Regions from separate parts of the Homo sapiens genome. Here all the other regions are linked to region 3. The links come from fine-mapping of genetic effects on gene expression. A gene starts in region 3. Each other region holds a variant in brackets. All regions are shown on one strand. Distances are between the middles of the regions.

What was found. PIP is the estimated chance that this variant, and not a neighbour inherited with it, causes the effect. A credible set is the group of variants that fine-mapping cannot tell apart.
Region 1: its variant is the best candidate, but not a certain one, in a credible set for the expression of ACTN1 in monocytes (TOPMed, PIP 0.76).
Region 2: its variant is the best candidate, but not a certain one, in a credible set for the expression of ACTN1 in whole blood (TOPMed, PIP 0.53).

What each region holds. Positions count from the first base shown.
Region 1 is chr14:68,925,668-68,930,667 of GRCh38, reverse strand. ACTN1 (actinin alpha 1) reads left to right here. Exons shown (of 22, transcript NM_001130004.2): 2 at 4,996-5,000. Among named protein-coding and RNA genes, the nearest start is that of ACTN1, 51 kb to the left of the region's middle. The variant G/T (reference allele first, on the strand shown) is at 2,365.
Region 2 is chr14:68,919,324-68,924,323 of GRCh38, reverse strand. ACTN1 (actinin alpha 1) reads left to right here. Exons shown (of 22, transcript NM_001130004.2): 3 at 3,199-3,318. Among named protein-coding and RNA genes, the nearest start is that of ACTN1, 57 kb to the left of the region's middle. RefSeq lists enhancers at 1-344, 2,877-3,451. The variant A/T (reference allele first, on the strand shown) is at 2,533.
Region 3 is chr14:68,976,708-68,982,003 of GRCh38, reverse strand. It overlaps ACTN1 (actinin alpha 1), which reads left to right and starts at 2,702. Exons shown (of 22, transcript NM_001130004.2): 1 at 2,702-3,052. The coding sequence starts at 2,948. ACTN1-DT (ACTN1 divergent transcript) reads right to left here and starts at 2,322. Exons shown (of 4, transcript NR_073422.1): 1 at 2,220-2,322; 2 at 1,817-2,076. RefSeq lists a silencer at 2,645-2,694 and enhancers at 1,836-2,834, 2,835-3,834.

The DNA of each region.
Region 1 (5,000 bases), 51 kb after region 3:
GAAGCTGATAGGCCTGGATTTGCAGTCTTCTTTAGAGTGACTAAATCCTTGCATTCCCATGGATACTTTTCTGCAGAGTGATCCGAGTGAATCCCATGGCCCTCCTGCTTTAGGGTCTTGTGATTTACCTCTCCCTCTCCCCATGACCAAGGGTATGAAGGATGCTTGATTGTAAAAGCTCATCCCCTAACTCATGCTTCTGGGGTAATCTTCTGTACCCCAGCTCCTTGCAGAGTGTGATTATTCAGACATCCTTTTAGAATCTAAAATTCAGGCAGTGATGATGACGGTAGGAACTACCACTTTCTGCACACTTACTATATTTCAGACACATTGATACTATATTGTCATTATTCACATAAATTAACAACATTACTATGCTAAAATTATTTACTGAATAAGGGTACTTCCTGTCAGTCATGCCTGGGAGATGCTATTGTCCCCCATTTTACAGACTTGAAAACTGAGGCTCAAAGAGGCCTGTTGTGGCTAAAGAAACATTGCAGTGTGTCTGTCTGAGCTTGGGGGCAGGGAAGGCACGTTCTCAAAAGCCATATTCCTTTCCAACACATTTTAAAGGAAGTATATCACATGATAATTGTGAAAGATGTGACGAAAAGAGGTTAGCGGAGTCTGTGAGAGCAAGGCTATGAGACCTGTACAGAAGGTGGACAATGTGATTCTGTCTCCATGGCCAGCTCCATGGCTCCTAGCCTGGGCTGGGGCCCCTCTGTTGGCGCCTGGCCAGGTCCCTCTTTGCAACCCTGAACTACAGGGCTGGACAGTTGCACTCTCCACCTCCTCAAACCACCTTCAAACTGGATTAGACATGGGCAGTGGCTTCGAGGTCATTGAGAGGCTGAGCAGGGGTCCAGGCTGTTTTGCGGCCCCTCCCTCTGTCCCGGGTCCTCAGAGACTCTGCAGGGCCGGGGCAGGTGGAGTGCAGACAGGGCTGCTGAGAGGGGAACAGGCCGTTGCCGCTGCTCTGCGGGAACATCCCAGTGTGGTCCTTGGTCCCAAGGACTTTTCCTGGGACCTCTCGGCATCCCTGAAGCCATTTCTGGAACGGAGTGTATCCACTGAAGACCTGCCATCCCGGATCTCCTTTGTCAGGCTGTGAGCCTGAGTATGGCCCAAGGAGGTGACTTGAAGATGGCTCTTGGGGTGAGGGGAGGCCAGATAGGGCAGGGCTTCATCGGGCTGAGCAGTAACATGGCCCTGTACCCTTTGTTTGAATGCGGCTGGGCCACAAACCTGCCGGGGTAGCACTCCCCACCACGCTGGGCGTCCAGGCTGGAGGTCTTGGGGCCGTGGGTCTCTAGCATGGGCCTCTCCTGTGGCTTTGACCTTCCTCTCCTTGCTGGACCCCTGGAGCACTGCTAAGGAGCAGGTGCCACCCCCTCATGCTGGAGCTTGAGCCTCAAGACCAAGGCTGCCCCAGGCTGGAGGGGAGGATATAGTTGTATGGTGTGCGTTCAGCTGTCAGACCTCCTCTGCGGAGGTGCACAAGGCCACTGTCAAAATCCCTGGTTTTCTGCACCCACGCCACTGTTCCAGCCCTCTCCCACGAACGCACCACAGTTCCAGCCCTCTCCCACGAACCCGCCACAGTTCCAGCCCTCTCCCACGAACCCGCCACAGTTCCAGCCCTCTCCCACGAATGTGCCACAGTTCCACCCCTCTCCCAGGAACTCACCACAGTTCCACCCCTCTCCCAGGAACTCACCACAGTTCCAGCCCTCTCCCACGAACACACCAGCACCGGTGCAAAAAAGAGCTCGCATGTTGTCATCTTGGAAACAGTACAGCGCGTGGTGGGGTGGGACCTACGACAGGAGAGTTTGGTGGCTGGGGGCAGGGAGAGGATGTGGGGTGGGAGTGCAGAGGAGCAAGAGCAAGTCCTCTGAGACCTGGTCCCGGGATCATTTTGGGGGAGCTAGTCCTGTCATCTTCCTCCTCCCCACTGTTCACTGAGCACTTACTAAATGGCAAGTTTTTTACAGATGTTTTTGAGTTAATCTTTTTAACTTTTATGGAGCGCTGTTACTATCCCTGTTTTACTGCAAAGGGAACTGAAGTTTAGGAAGGTTAATCTGAAGGTCACACAGCCAGTAAATAGTGGATCTGAGAACTGAATCCAGCTCTGATGCGTCCCGAAGTGCATGTTGTTGATCACCGGGTCACAGCCACCATTTCCTCCTCTAGCCTAAACTTTGCGGTGGCTGCTGCTTGTTGGGGAAACTTTCCAGTTTGAGAGGTGCCCAGAGCCCCCTTCAAGGCAGTAATCTATGGGGCCTCTGAGGATTGGGGGTTTTAGTAAAGCCATGTTCCAGGGCTTTGTCCAGGAGACCTGAGCAAACATAG[G/T]TGTGTTTTGTTTCCCAGGGCTGAGCCTGGCTTTTCCAGGAAAGGGGGCTGGCTGCTTTCAACAGCACTTTTCCTCTTTCAAAAGCAGTGTCTTTTTACGACAGCAGCCTCTTCCTCCTTTATCTCATCCCAACCCCCTCCACGACTGGGTAGTAAACAGTGAGAATTTATAGCCCCCAGCTGGGCGGGTGGGCTCAGGGCAGTGCCTGCTAGGACCCTGGATGTTTCAGGCCACATTGGACCTGAAAGCATCCCTTCGAGTTGCTGGGGCTGACACAGTTCCCCTCAAGGAAATAGAAAACCTTAGGCTGAAGGTTCAGTGCTGGGGGACTGGGAGTGGGTGCTGGGGATGGCCAAGATGGTGATAAATGAGAAAAGACCACCCACCCCAGTGTCAACGCACACTCAAGTGTGAACGCACAGCTTGAAGACACTGGGCAGACCAGTGTCAGCTGGGAGAGAATGTGCAAAACCAAAGTAAATTATATTTGTTTTAAAGAGTTAAAAATCCTTTAATATTTTTCTACCAATAAAAAGAAGTTAAAATAAGGATAAAGGCTAAAGGCCCTCTCATCTCCTGCAGTGCCAGCAGCGGAGGAAGGATGCTTGGTACATACGCTTCCCTGTCCTGCTGCGTCCTCTTTCCTCCGAGCTGTCTTCTGTGTCCAGGGGGTCCCTAAGAGCACTGTTTGTCCCATCACCCCCTGCCCTGAGAGCATTCAGCCTCACCCACAAGGTGCAGTTGGATCTCCCAGGACCCTCTCAGCTTTGCATCCAGTTCCCCACTTGTTCCTTCACCTGGCTGCCCAATTCTTACGTCCACTAGAATGTCTGCTGCACAGAGGCAGGGACTTTTGCTGTTTAGTTCACTGCTGTGTCCCTGACTCTGTGCCCTGGGTCTCTGGGATATAAAGGTGAACATTGAGTTTCTACCTCCAAGAGCTCCCAGGCTGGGGGTGTGGAGCTGACAAGTGGCTAGGCATAATGGGTGAATGCAGGGTGCTATGGGTGTGTGTCCAGCCCAGACAGAGCAGGTGGCTATCAGGAAGGCTTCCTGGAGGAGGTGATATCTCTACCCAGTCTTGAAAGATGAGTGAGTTAGTTAAGCAAGATAGAGAGGACATTGGAAATCAGTGTATGTCCCCTATCTACCCTGATCTGTGTGCCAGTCTTCCCAGAGCTCTGGGATAGCACAATACGCCGTTTCTCTTCATCATGGGAGTAGGCTGGCCTGCAGAGTGGAGATATGTTTGCAGGGAGAGAGAGGTATTCCATATTGGTAAGTTACTAGTGAGACATGATTGAAAAATTAAGCCCAAAGTCACAGGGTATCATAATGCTGTCCCTTTCTCCCCGCCTGTGTGGAGGGATAGCTTCTGTCCCCCTGTTCCCTTTCTTGTTCATAGGCTCTTCAACTTTTGCTCCTAAATCTAAGCAGCTATTTCTTTTCCCCTGATACTCGCTGGTGTGATGTTCTTCCCTCTTCCTACCCACTTATTGCCACTTCACCTTTAGAGTTCCCCAGGGCAGGAGGAAGGGATTGGGGAGCATGAAGCTGTGACCTTTCCCATGAGGAAGAGTATTTCTAGTGTGGCTCCTACTGTCACATGAATGATACACTGCCCATCCTTTGAATTTTGCAGGGCAGGTGGGAAGAGAGCTGAATGGCTCTGGTGTTGGGTGAGCCCCATGTAATTGGTAGTGCCATTTGGTGCAGAGAAGTCTGGAGTTGCCAATGAATGGTTTAGATCTAAAGCAAGGGAGCTCTTCTCTCTGGTTGCCACAGAGTGGAGACAGCTGGAGAGAGACACCTGTTTTAGATGGACATGTAAAACTGCGATGCATGCTTTTGTTTCTCATGTTTGTTGAGACACCCTCTTCCTGTTTGAGCCACTAGCTGGTGCTGTTGGCACAGGATGGCTTAGTTGCTGCCTCACCTGATCATAATCTGCTTAATAGAGAAGTAACTATGAAGCTGATGGTCTTTGATTTGACCTCCTTACATTCCCTTTCTGGAACTCTTCATGCTTTTGCAGCTTAGGGTGCCCCTATCCCCACCCAAAGCACACACAGATACACATTGGGGTGCTTACTCTTCTCCCTTGTCCTGACACCCTGCATCTGAATTCTGTTCTCAGCAAAACTTACTACTCCTTTCTCTTAGCTGGCTGCCAAGTGAGAAAGGATTTAATATACTAATTTACCCTAAGGTATCAACAGGGCTTAATATGTTCCTTCGGGGTTACTCTGTCTTAAAACTGTGAAGATTGAAACTAAGTCTTATAACTTAAGAGGTAACTTGTAAGAATGGAATTGTGGCATTTTCAAATGTGGGTGGGCATGAGTCTTTGAGAGAGGGCTGGGAGGCGGATGTTAAGGGAATTTGCTGCTTCATGTATCCTGCTTGCTCCCACCCATGTAGCAGGCTCTGTGTAGGGTCCCTCAGCTGCTGCCCTGTGGGTAGCTCAGTGCTTGGTTGATGCAGTGAATGAGACCATGGTGGGGCAACTGTGTTGAGAGGCTCTGCTGAGTAGGTGTCCACCTCCCACCCCCTGGCACCATTAAATGGCTTGTCCAATGAGGGTGACAACACCAGCCCCCTGACCACTTGCCCTTCTTGTCTCTGCCCAGACATT
Region 2 (5,000 bases), 58 kb after region 3:
TTTTTCTACTTTCAGATAAAACCTGTGTGTGTGGTAAAATAATATATAACAGAAAATGTATCATTTTAGCCATTTTAAAGGGTGCAGTTCAGCGGTATTAAGGGCATGCACTGACTGTTGTGCAGCCATCGCCACCGTCCACCTTCAGGGCTCTTCATCGTCTCAAACTGACACCCTACAGCTGTTCAACACTAGCTCGCCGCTCCCCCCGGCCCTCCCCTGGCAACCACCATTCTACTTTTTGTCTCTGATTTGACTACTCTAGGTATACCTTGTACGAGTGGAATCATACAGTATTTCTCCTTTTGTGACACTGGTTTATTTCACTTACTGTGTCTTCACGGTTCATCCATGTTGGAGCATGTGCCGCCATCCCTTTCCTTTTTATGGCTGAATCGTATTCCATTGTATGTATGACCTACAGCTATAAAATGGCTCCCCACATTTTGTTCATTCACCTGTCGGTGGTCACTTGGGTTGTTTCTACCTTTTGGGTATTGTGAATAATGCTAGGACATGGTTGTACAAAATATTTTTAAAATCCCTCTTTCAGTTCTTTTTTTGTATATTCCCCAAAGTGGAACTGCTAGGTCACATGGGAATTCTCTGTTTAATTTTTTGAGGAGCCACCGTGCTGTTTTCCTCTGCCGTTATTTATTTATTTATTTTCTTTTTTCTTTGAGATAGGGTTCCACCATGTTGGCCAGGCTGGTATTGAACTCCTGACCTCAGGTGATCCTCCCACCTCAGCCTCCCAAAGCGCTGGGATTGCAGGTGTGAGCCACCGTGCCTTGCCTCTAACTGCCTTTTAGAATGTCCCTGCTTCCTACCTCCTCCACTACCCTTCCCCAGTTTTAAACAAATCTGGCCTTACAATTTATCATTCTTCAAAATGCAGCTTGAGGGTGTCCTTCAAGAAGGCTTCACCCTTCCTCTCTCCCCTAATCTGAGTGGACTGTGCCCTGCCCGCACCACCCCCCTACCTGCCCAGCTCCCCAGCACCTATAATACCCCATTAATTCCTCTGCTGTGTCTTTTATCACAAAGTGTAGTCATTTTCGGTTCGCTTGTTTTCTTCTCTGCTCCACACTGAGCTCCTTGGGGCAGGTCATCTTCTCTCTGTGTCTCAGGTGCTTAGAACAGCACCAGACATGTAGGCGGTGCTCCGGGAACATTAGAATGACTGAGTGCCCAGAGCCGGGCTTGTCCTCATGATACCCAGTGTGTTCCTGCTGCATAGGTCTGACGTGTGCCCAGGGGACCTGTGCATTTCTGTGAAGCATGTGTCTCTTTGCCAGGGTTGGGAAAGATCTGTTCTGTGAAATGATCTGTTCTCCCCTGGACAGGAAATGCTGGGATACCTTTTTCTCCTGATCATCGTTGGAGATGGGTAGGGTGCCCCAGGATGAGGAGAAGGAGGGGTATGCTGCCTACAGAGGTTCTCAAAGTGTGGTCCTTGGACTACCCACACCAGAATCGGCAGGATTGCCTGTCAAAATGCAGATTTCCAAACCTTAACCCAGTCCTCCTAATCACAAACTTAGTGAGAGGGGGAAAGGGGCTGGACAGCCACAGATTAGCCAGTTCTCCAGGTGATTTTGTGCTGACTGACGTTTGAGAACCACTGGCCCAGGCCTGGGAAGCTTTTTCCATTCTCCCGTGTTTAACCCTTGCCTCCTCCACTGTCCTTTGCAGAAGCCCCCTTCCAGCCAGTGTGCACAGCTGCTGAATGGCTGGGGCACTCCGCTTAGCTGGACAGGCCCCAAGGGCTGGGGCTGTAACAGGAGCAGCCTTCCAGGGAGGGGACGTGGTGCTGCCTGCATCCATCCTGTGGGGAGGGAGCCTCTGTGCCATCTCCCCCCGGACAGGAAATACTGGGGTACCTTGCTGGGTTGCAGCCAGAGCCTTGGGAGGGCCCCAAGTGGAAAGTCTTGATTTAATTTAAAAAACAGCTGTGCTTCCCTGGGAGCTGACAGCCAGATCCCATCTGTGGCAGGAAGTCTGCCGTCTTCCAGAAGCTAGCAGGCTGCTGGGAGGCCACCTGGAGAGGTGCTGCTCTGACAGGGTGGGCCTGGCCCAGAATCCCCGTGGCTGGTCCCTGGAGTCCTCGCAGCCAGATTGTCGACCTGCTGGGGAGACAGTGGGTGTGGTCGGGATATCAGGGCAGGCACAAGGGGCCTGAATTCCAGGCTCTGCGATGGTGGTTCTCAGCCTTTTGGGGTCCTTGGCCCCTTAGAGACCCTGAAAGCTATATACCCCTTCCCTAGGTATGGCTCTATGCTGCACTTAGAAAATTCTCAGATCATTTCAGGAGGCCCCTGGATGCTCTTTGTTCTGGAATAAAAGTGCTGTTAATGGGGTATTTGGAGAGCCAGCTCCTCTACCTTTATTTTCTCAAAGGTTCTGACCTTGAAACCTGAGCAGCAGAAGCTACTGTGTGGAATCTGGAGGTGGGGGTGGAGGGTTGACCTGGAGCTGAGCCCTGGGTGCCCACAGGAGGCAGCATAATAGGACAAGAACTGTGGTTCTCAG[A/T]TGGGGATGGGCTGCTATAGGCAACTCCATTTAAACACCAGGGAAGTCCATAATACTTGAGTGACCTATACCCTCCTCCCAGGGCAAAGGGAAGGCTAGAAGGAGTTCAGGGCCTTTGCATGTACTGTTCCTTCTGCCTTGATCATCATTCCTTGCTTTGTTTGCCTGGCTGCAAAGACTCAGACCTTTCCTGACCACTCCTCAGTTCCTCCTTCCTCTTCCTCCTCCTCTTTTGAAGAGCATGGATCTTTCTTTGTATTTGTTCATTGTATATATTTATTTGTGTTTCTCTATTTAAGGTCTGTCTCTCCTACTGGACTGTAATTACATAAAGGCAAGAAACTGTTTTGTTCACCCCCCTATTCCTAGCACCCAGCCAAATCCCTGGCATGCGGTAGGGGCTCGATAAATAAATGTTGAGTGGATGCAAGCAGATTTCGACCTGAGAAGCAGAAGAAAGAAGAGGCAGGGTAGATTCTCCCTCTCATTCCCTGCCAGGGTGACATTCTCCAGCCCCTGAGCAGCGTGTGAGCACACACACACGTGCACACATGCACATGCTTCTGCCTAGCTAAGCTGTGCTTTGGATGAGGGTGTAGTGGTAGTAGCTCTGGCCCCTGGCTCATAGCGTCTCACCTTCCTCTTCCTCCCTCTTGATCCAAACAGGTGAACGCTTGGCCAAGCCAGAGCGAGGCAAGATGAGAGTGCACAAGATCTCCAACGTCAACAAGGCCCTGGATTTCATAGCCAGCAAAGGCGTCAAACTGGTGTCCATCGGAGCCGAAGGTAAGGCCTACCTCTGGTGGCCCCAAGGAGCCTGATTTTCTTTGTCCCCCTGGTTCTCTTGGCCTTTTTTGTGCTGCCTCCTGGGCCCATGCATCACTTGGGGGCATTGGGCAGTGGGTCCCCAGCACCTCCATCTGGTCGCCTGTGGAGGCTTTGTATTGCAACAGCGCTTTTCTTCTAGTCTCAGCCCTGCCCAAAACCAAGGACTTAGACCCCTGTTCCCATGCCTGCACCTGCTTAGCCACGTCCTTGCTCTGTGGAGTCCTGTGTGTGTGGCATGCCACCTCCCCCATCCAGAGGCCTGACTGCACGGTGTTGCCTGGAGCAGAGGATTTGTGTATGGGCTGGAAAGGGTGTGCAGACACAGGCTGGTGGAGGCTGGAGGCTGCCCCGAGACTCCCCGGGGCCCTGGGAAGACTGAAGTCCCGAAGCCTCTAGGAACATTTTTAATAGCATTTCCCTGCAGTGTAGCTTCCTAACTCTTTAACTTTTACTTAGAAACACTTACCAAAAAAGCTATTAGCATTTCCTTAATGATTAAAAGAAGGTAGTGTAATTTCTTGTGTGCATGGTGGTGGCTCTGAAAAATTGAGAGTGGGTTGTTTAGAGTGGGCAGAAAATGTTCTATCCAGGCCCCTTCAGTCCTGTGACCATGGATTTAGCAAGTATTTATGGGGCACCTGCTGCGTGATGTCAGAGACCTAAAGATGAACGAATCTCACTCATTCAAGACACATCGTGGCTGTGAGAATGGATTGCTCACTCTGTGGCATATACTTAATCCTCACAACAACCCTATGAGGTAGCTCTAAGAATTAATTATCCTGATTTTGCCATAAGAAAACAGATGCTTAAAGAGATTACGTGACTTCCTCAAGGTTCCGCCATCAGTAAGTGGCAAAGCCAGAACTCAAACGCAGGTCTTCGTGACACCAGAGGAATGCCCTGAGAGTGGCCTTCCCTTGGAGGGGGCAGGGGTCTTGCTCCTGGGAAGTCCATAGGAGCAGATCTCTTCTCTGGTTGAAGCTTACAGTCCCCTCTCTTCTAGAAATGGAGGGATATTTATCAAATGGAGAACTTTAACACAGGCTCAGCAAACTGCAGTGCATGGGGTCGAGTCCGGCTGATTTGGATTTTTGGAAATATTGGAACACAGCACACCGGTGTTAATGTATCATCAGTGGCTTTGTGCTGCAATGACAGAGTTGAGTAGTTGCTACAGAGCTTATATGGATCATAGAGCCAGAAACATTTCTTATCAGGCCCTCTACAGAAAAAGTTTGCTCACCTCTGCCTTATCTGGAATTCAGGCCAGTGCCCAAGGTGGTCACGCAAGGTGCCTTATGGATTCCAGCATCTCCCCCACCAGCTGTGAGCTTCTCAAAGGCAGAAACCTTGGTTTCTACATCCTGTGGCCCCAGTTCCTAGCAGCATGATGCACACAGTAGGTGCTCAATACATGTTAAAAGGATTTACATATAGCAGTATAATCTGCTTTGTGATGAGGAAGATGTTCTCTGCCTTATAATAAGAAAAGAACAGTTTGCTTTATTAGGGAGCAATTCAAGACTTGGCAGAAAAAGTTATAACTAAGCAGGCGTGGGAAGCCAAAGAAAGTCACCCAGGTGGTTAGTGCAGGCTCGGATGCCCCTGGGGCAGGGAAGTGTAGAGAATTTGTGAAG
Region 3 (5,296 bases):
TCCACCTGGCACATGAGGCCTTCATGGTCTGGCTGCTTTGCACCTCTCTAGCCCCGTCTCTTGCCCCTCCCGGCCTTGGATTTCTAGTCCAGCCACGTTGAGATGCTAGACATTCCTTTGTATACCATGCAGTTTCCTGTCCTTGTGCATTAGCTTGTGCTGGTCCTTCCTTCTGGAGTAACTTCCCACACTCTTTATCTGGCTGACTCTCATTCTTTAACGTTCACTTAAGTTTCACCTCCTCCAAAAAGTTAAGCCTGGAGCCTCCTTTCCCACGGGGTTCAGTGCCCCTCATCTGTTCCAACAGTACACTTGTCAGATCTCTCTCCTTGCGTCTAACTCATGACATCATATTTTTGTTTCTGTGTCTGTCTGCTGGGCTGTGTGCGACAGGGACTATGGCTTTTTCATCTCTGTATACATCTAGTACATTCCCTGATATGCAGATGGTGCTCAGCAAATATTTATTGGGTGAATGAATGGATACAGCACTACCATTACCCTCTGTGTTAGGTTTAGAGCCACAGTTTAGAAGCGGTGATAAAATGGTCCATAAATCAGCTGTCTCTGTGGCTCAGAAGCAGTGCTTCCTCAGCCAGGGGCTTTTGGAAGGCACAGTGCTGGAGGGTAACACTCATATGAATATGTGTGGTTGACGAATGATGCAGCCAGAGACACCATCCGATATCTGCTCACAACAGCAGCAGTGGCTCTTCTGAGAACCAGGGGGCACTTTCTTCACCTTTTCCATGGGTGGCTTTCAGGTATCCACCATCGCCTGGAGAGAAGGTAGAGGACAAAATCCAGCCCATAATTCAGGGCCCTTCCTGTCAGTGAACTTCTTCTTCTAACTCCTTCACTCACTTCTGAATTGACATATTTGCATTTTAAATTTAAATTTAAATTTAAATTTTTGCAGTTGATGCAGCCATTCATCCTACAAATACAGTCCTCCCTTAGTATTGGCAGGGTATTGGTTTCAGCATCCCCATGGATACCAAAATCTGAGGATGCTCAAGTCCCTCACAGTCAGCCTGGGTATCTGCGGGTTCTGAAGCCTGTGGATATAAAGGGCCAAATGCATATATGTATGTATATATTTTGAGACAGTCTTGTTTTGTCACCCAGGCCGGAGTGCAATGGTGAAAATGCACCTCACTGCAACCTCGACCTCCCAGGCTCAAGGGAGTCTCCCGCCTCAGCTTCCCAAGTAGCTGGGACTACAGGCGTGTACCACCATGCCCGGCTGATTTTTGTATTTTTAGTAAGGACGGGGTTTTGCCACGTTGGCCAGGCTGGTCTCCAACTCCTGGGCTCAAGCGATCTGCCCGCCTCAGCCTCTCAAAGTGCTGGGATTACAGGTGTGAGCCACCGCCACCGTGGCCAGCCTCAAATCCATAAATTAAGCTCTACTATGTGCTGGGTGCTGGGGTGGAAGACTGGCACATCTGTTGTTCACAAGACAGTGCATAACCTAGGAGAGGTTTATTTGCTACTGTTCTTCGGAACCGGGATCCCATAGAGGAGCCTGCCAGAACGCGAGGCCTGCTCCTTCCCGGGCATTAGCGCGTTTAGACTCTCCTCTTACTAAGCCCAGGGAAAGGAGTCCTGGCAGGTGGCAAGCAGAAGTTAGAGCTATTTAGTCACTCCCGCCCTCCATCCTCCTCCAATGACAATAAGGTTTTGTTTGTCAGGCATAAGGTTACCGGATTGGCCTGTGAAGTCCAGAAGCTCTTTCCGCGCTCGGCTCTTTGAGCCTCAGTTTCCCCATCTGTCAGGCGTGTGTATGTGGGAGGGGGGTACGGAGTAGATTTACCTAGATCACTCGGGGTTGTCCCTTCCAGTTTTGAGGGTGATGTCGGGGTGTCTGTGAGGAGGAGGGAGGACCCTGCCACGCGAAGGTAGTTTTGGTCGCAGCAGCCAGCCAAGTGTGCCCGCGGAGACCGGCAGGGAATTCCGGGAGGCCCCGCTGTGGAGCGGTCCCCAGAGCCCGAGGGCGAGCTAGAAGAGTTCCTGCGGCGAGGCGGGAACGCTCGGTAGCCTCTGAGAGCAGTTCGCTGGCGAGAAACCGGGTTCCTGCAGGGCAGGGATCAGCCGGGTCGCGCCTTGTAGGGTGGGGTGGGGTGGGGCGGGGCCGGGGGGGGCGGCGGTGGAGTCGTGAAATTCCCAAGAAATTCCTTTCCATTGCCCCACTCCGCCCCCTTTCCTAGGGTGCCGACCTGCCCAGACCCAGGTTCCCTGGGAAAGAGAAAATGAATGTTCTTCGGGTTTCCTCGCGTCCTTTCTCCAGCCCCCTCCCACCCCGGGGTTTGGAGCGCGCGTGGGAGCGCAATAACGGTGGCGGGGAACGGGTCCAATCCCGGCGGCTCCTGGGGTTCCCAAGCGCGCTGCCACTCAGTCCCCGAGCTCGGGGAGGCGTCTCCCGGCTTCGGTCCCGTTCAGCTTAAGCTGGCGTCACATGAGCCGCGGGGGAACGGGCACCGCGGGAGTGGGCGGGGGTGTGCGCGCCGGGAGGGGGCCGCCCAGTCCACCTATATGCGCCGCAGCCCGGCTGACGGATGCCAGGAATTCCCAATGAGAGGCGATGGGGGGAAGTTTGGGCAACTCGGCCTGGCCAATGGAGAGCCTCGGGAGGGCTCTGCCCCTTCCCCCCGCCCCCGCCCGCCTCGGCTCCCGCAGCGCTAGTGTGTCCGCCTAGTTCAGTGTGCGTGGAGATTAGGTCCAAGCGCCCGCCCAGAGGCAGGCAGTCCGCGAGCCCAGCCGCCGCTGTCGCCGCCAGTAGCAGCCTTCGCCAGCAGCGCCGCGGCGGAACCGGGCGCAGGGGAGCGAGCCCGGCCCCGCCAGCCCAGCCCAGCCCAGCCCTACTCCCTCCCCACGCCAGGGCAGCAGCCGTTGCTCAGAGAGAAGGTGGAGGAAGAAATCCAGACCCTAGCACGCGCGCACCATCATGGACCATTATGATTCTCAGCAAACCAACGATTACATGCAGCCAGAAGAGGACTGGGACCGGGACCTGCTCCTGGACCCGGCCTGGGAGAAGCAGCAGAGAAAGGTTAGCAGCCGCCCCCGCCCGCTGCAGCCCCCAGCCCCCAGCCCCCAGCCCCGACCCGCTCTGCCTGCCGGGCTCTCGGCTCCGGGCTCTGAACCGGTTCCGGGCGCGCACGGGAGGGGGCGGGGGCGGTGCGGCCGTTGCGAGGTGGGGTGTTGGGTTACAGGCGCCTGGCGGAAGCGGGAGCGCCCCTGCCCCGGAGCCCGGGAACGCCGGGCCGGAGCGCGGGGAGGTGGCGCCGCTGGCGGGCAGGTCTCCTTGGGGGTCCGTGGTCCAGGCCACCCTGCGGCTGTTGCAACCATCCCCGCGTGGGCTGTGCTCGGGGGCGGTGGTCTTCAGGCTGGGGCTGAGACCCCGGCTCGGGGCTGCTTGCTCCGGATCGATTTTCCCTTTTCTTCCGCCCCTGGCCACCTCTCCATATGGCGTGCGGTGGCAGCGCCGCTTCCTGGGCCGCCCTGGGTTCAACCTGAGCGGCGGGCCTCCCGGGACCCTGCTGCCCCTTAGGCGGAGGGGAGAGCGCCGGAGAGATCGGCGGCCGCCTCCGGATCTGCCTGGAGAAGGACCAGCTGGAGTGCGGCTGGGGACGAGAAAACTGGGGGGCGTACGCGGGCTCCCCCGCGGGCCCTGTGGGGGCGGGGTCAGGACAGCAGACCGTTTTATTGCTTAACTCAGTGGGTTGGAAGCTGTAACCCCGACATGGGCTTGCGCTACGTCCTGCCCCTCCGACCCCCGGGAAAGGTGGGCAGCTCGGTTCGAGTTGAGGGGCTGCAGAACGAGGGTCAGTCTTAGGGGATATTTGGGGCCAGTCACTGGGGATCCCTACTTAGCCACGGAGCTGCATCCCAGGCAGGCGCGGTGTGCCGGGTGCGCGCCCCGCCACGGGAGCTGGGCTCGGAGCTGGCGATGGGACCCGGGCACAGTGGCCAGTGGCAGGAAGAGGTCAGAAACCACTCGTGGTGGTGGGGGGAGGGCGCCTCAACCCTACCGCTGCTTCCTGCCTGCGCGGTGAGCCTGTGCCCCCAGGCGGCCACGTACCCTGAATACCCCTTTCCCTCCCCCTCCTCCCGGCTGCCCACTTCCATCCGGTCCCTCCCCGTTTCATACCCTCCCCACCCCCAGGCTGATCTGGGAATGGGGTTTTGGGTGGGGGGGGGACAGGATGGCGCGTCCCTTTGGATAGTGCGGTTAGGGCTGGGCTTGAGGGAGAACGCTCATGTCCAAAAATGGTAACATTCATTCCCTTTTTTAAACTTAAAAGGGGGGTAGTTTATAGAGCCGACTGAAGTTTTTTTTTTCAGCCAAAGGCATCCTGTATTAGCTCACTCAGGAATCCTAGGCCCTGAAACGGAGCCCTTTTACTCACTTCATCAGACAGGCAGAGGTAATCTAAAACACACACAATGGGCTTCCTCAAAGCAGGATGACCTGGGCCGCGGTGCCCAAGGCCTATGCAGGGCTGGGCCCTATACAGCGACATCGGTCATCTACATCGGACATGGGAAGGTCCCCTGACTTCGAACTGACTTCTTTGTAATGTGCCAGTTGCTTAAACTCCCCCTCTTCCTGTCATCTTCCTAGTAAGAGCTGAAGACTGGGGGCTGCAGACAGTCCCCCACTCACTTGGCTTATTTCCTGGGACCATGGGTGCTGTGGGTGGAACTGAAAAGTGAGTGAGTAATTTGGAGATCCCTATGGGGCACCAGGCAGAAGGCTCTTTAATAATTTCAGGGTGAAGCCTTCTTGAGAATGGATTTTAAATTAGAAGTGAGATTAGGGTGGTGGATTGGGGTCTTCCCTGGGGGTTAGAATCGAAGGAGAAATCCCTGCTTAGGGAGCACCTGCTTTGTGCCTGGGAGGGGCAGGAGTAACAGAGCTGCCTAGGAACTAGGCCCCTGAAAGGACTGTGAGACCAAGTTCCTAGGGGACAGACACTGAGCACCGGCCTGAACATCGTATTTAATATTTCTGAATGAATGAATATATTAAACGCAGTGGGGAGAAGAATATAGATTCCCAGGGCTCTGACCTGGGTGGCAGTGGGTGTGCCCCAGGCCTTTGGGCAGCCAGGTAGGAAGAGGTGGTCTGGGAAACTGGGTTATCCTGGAGGCAAACTCAACAGTGCCAAGAACTGGCATTTGCTGATATGTGCCAGGCACGAACAAGGACTAGGAAACCAGGGCCAGAGAGGGGAAGTAACCAGCTCCAAGTCCAGACTGTGTTTGGTGGGGCTGGGATGCAGCCATGTTT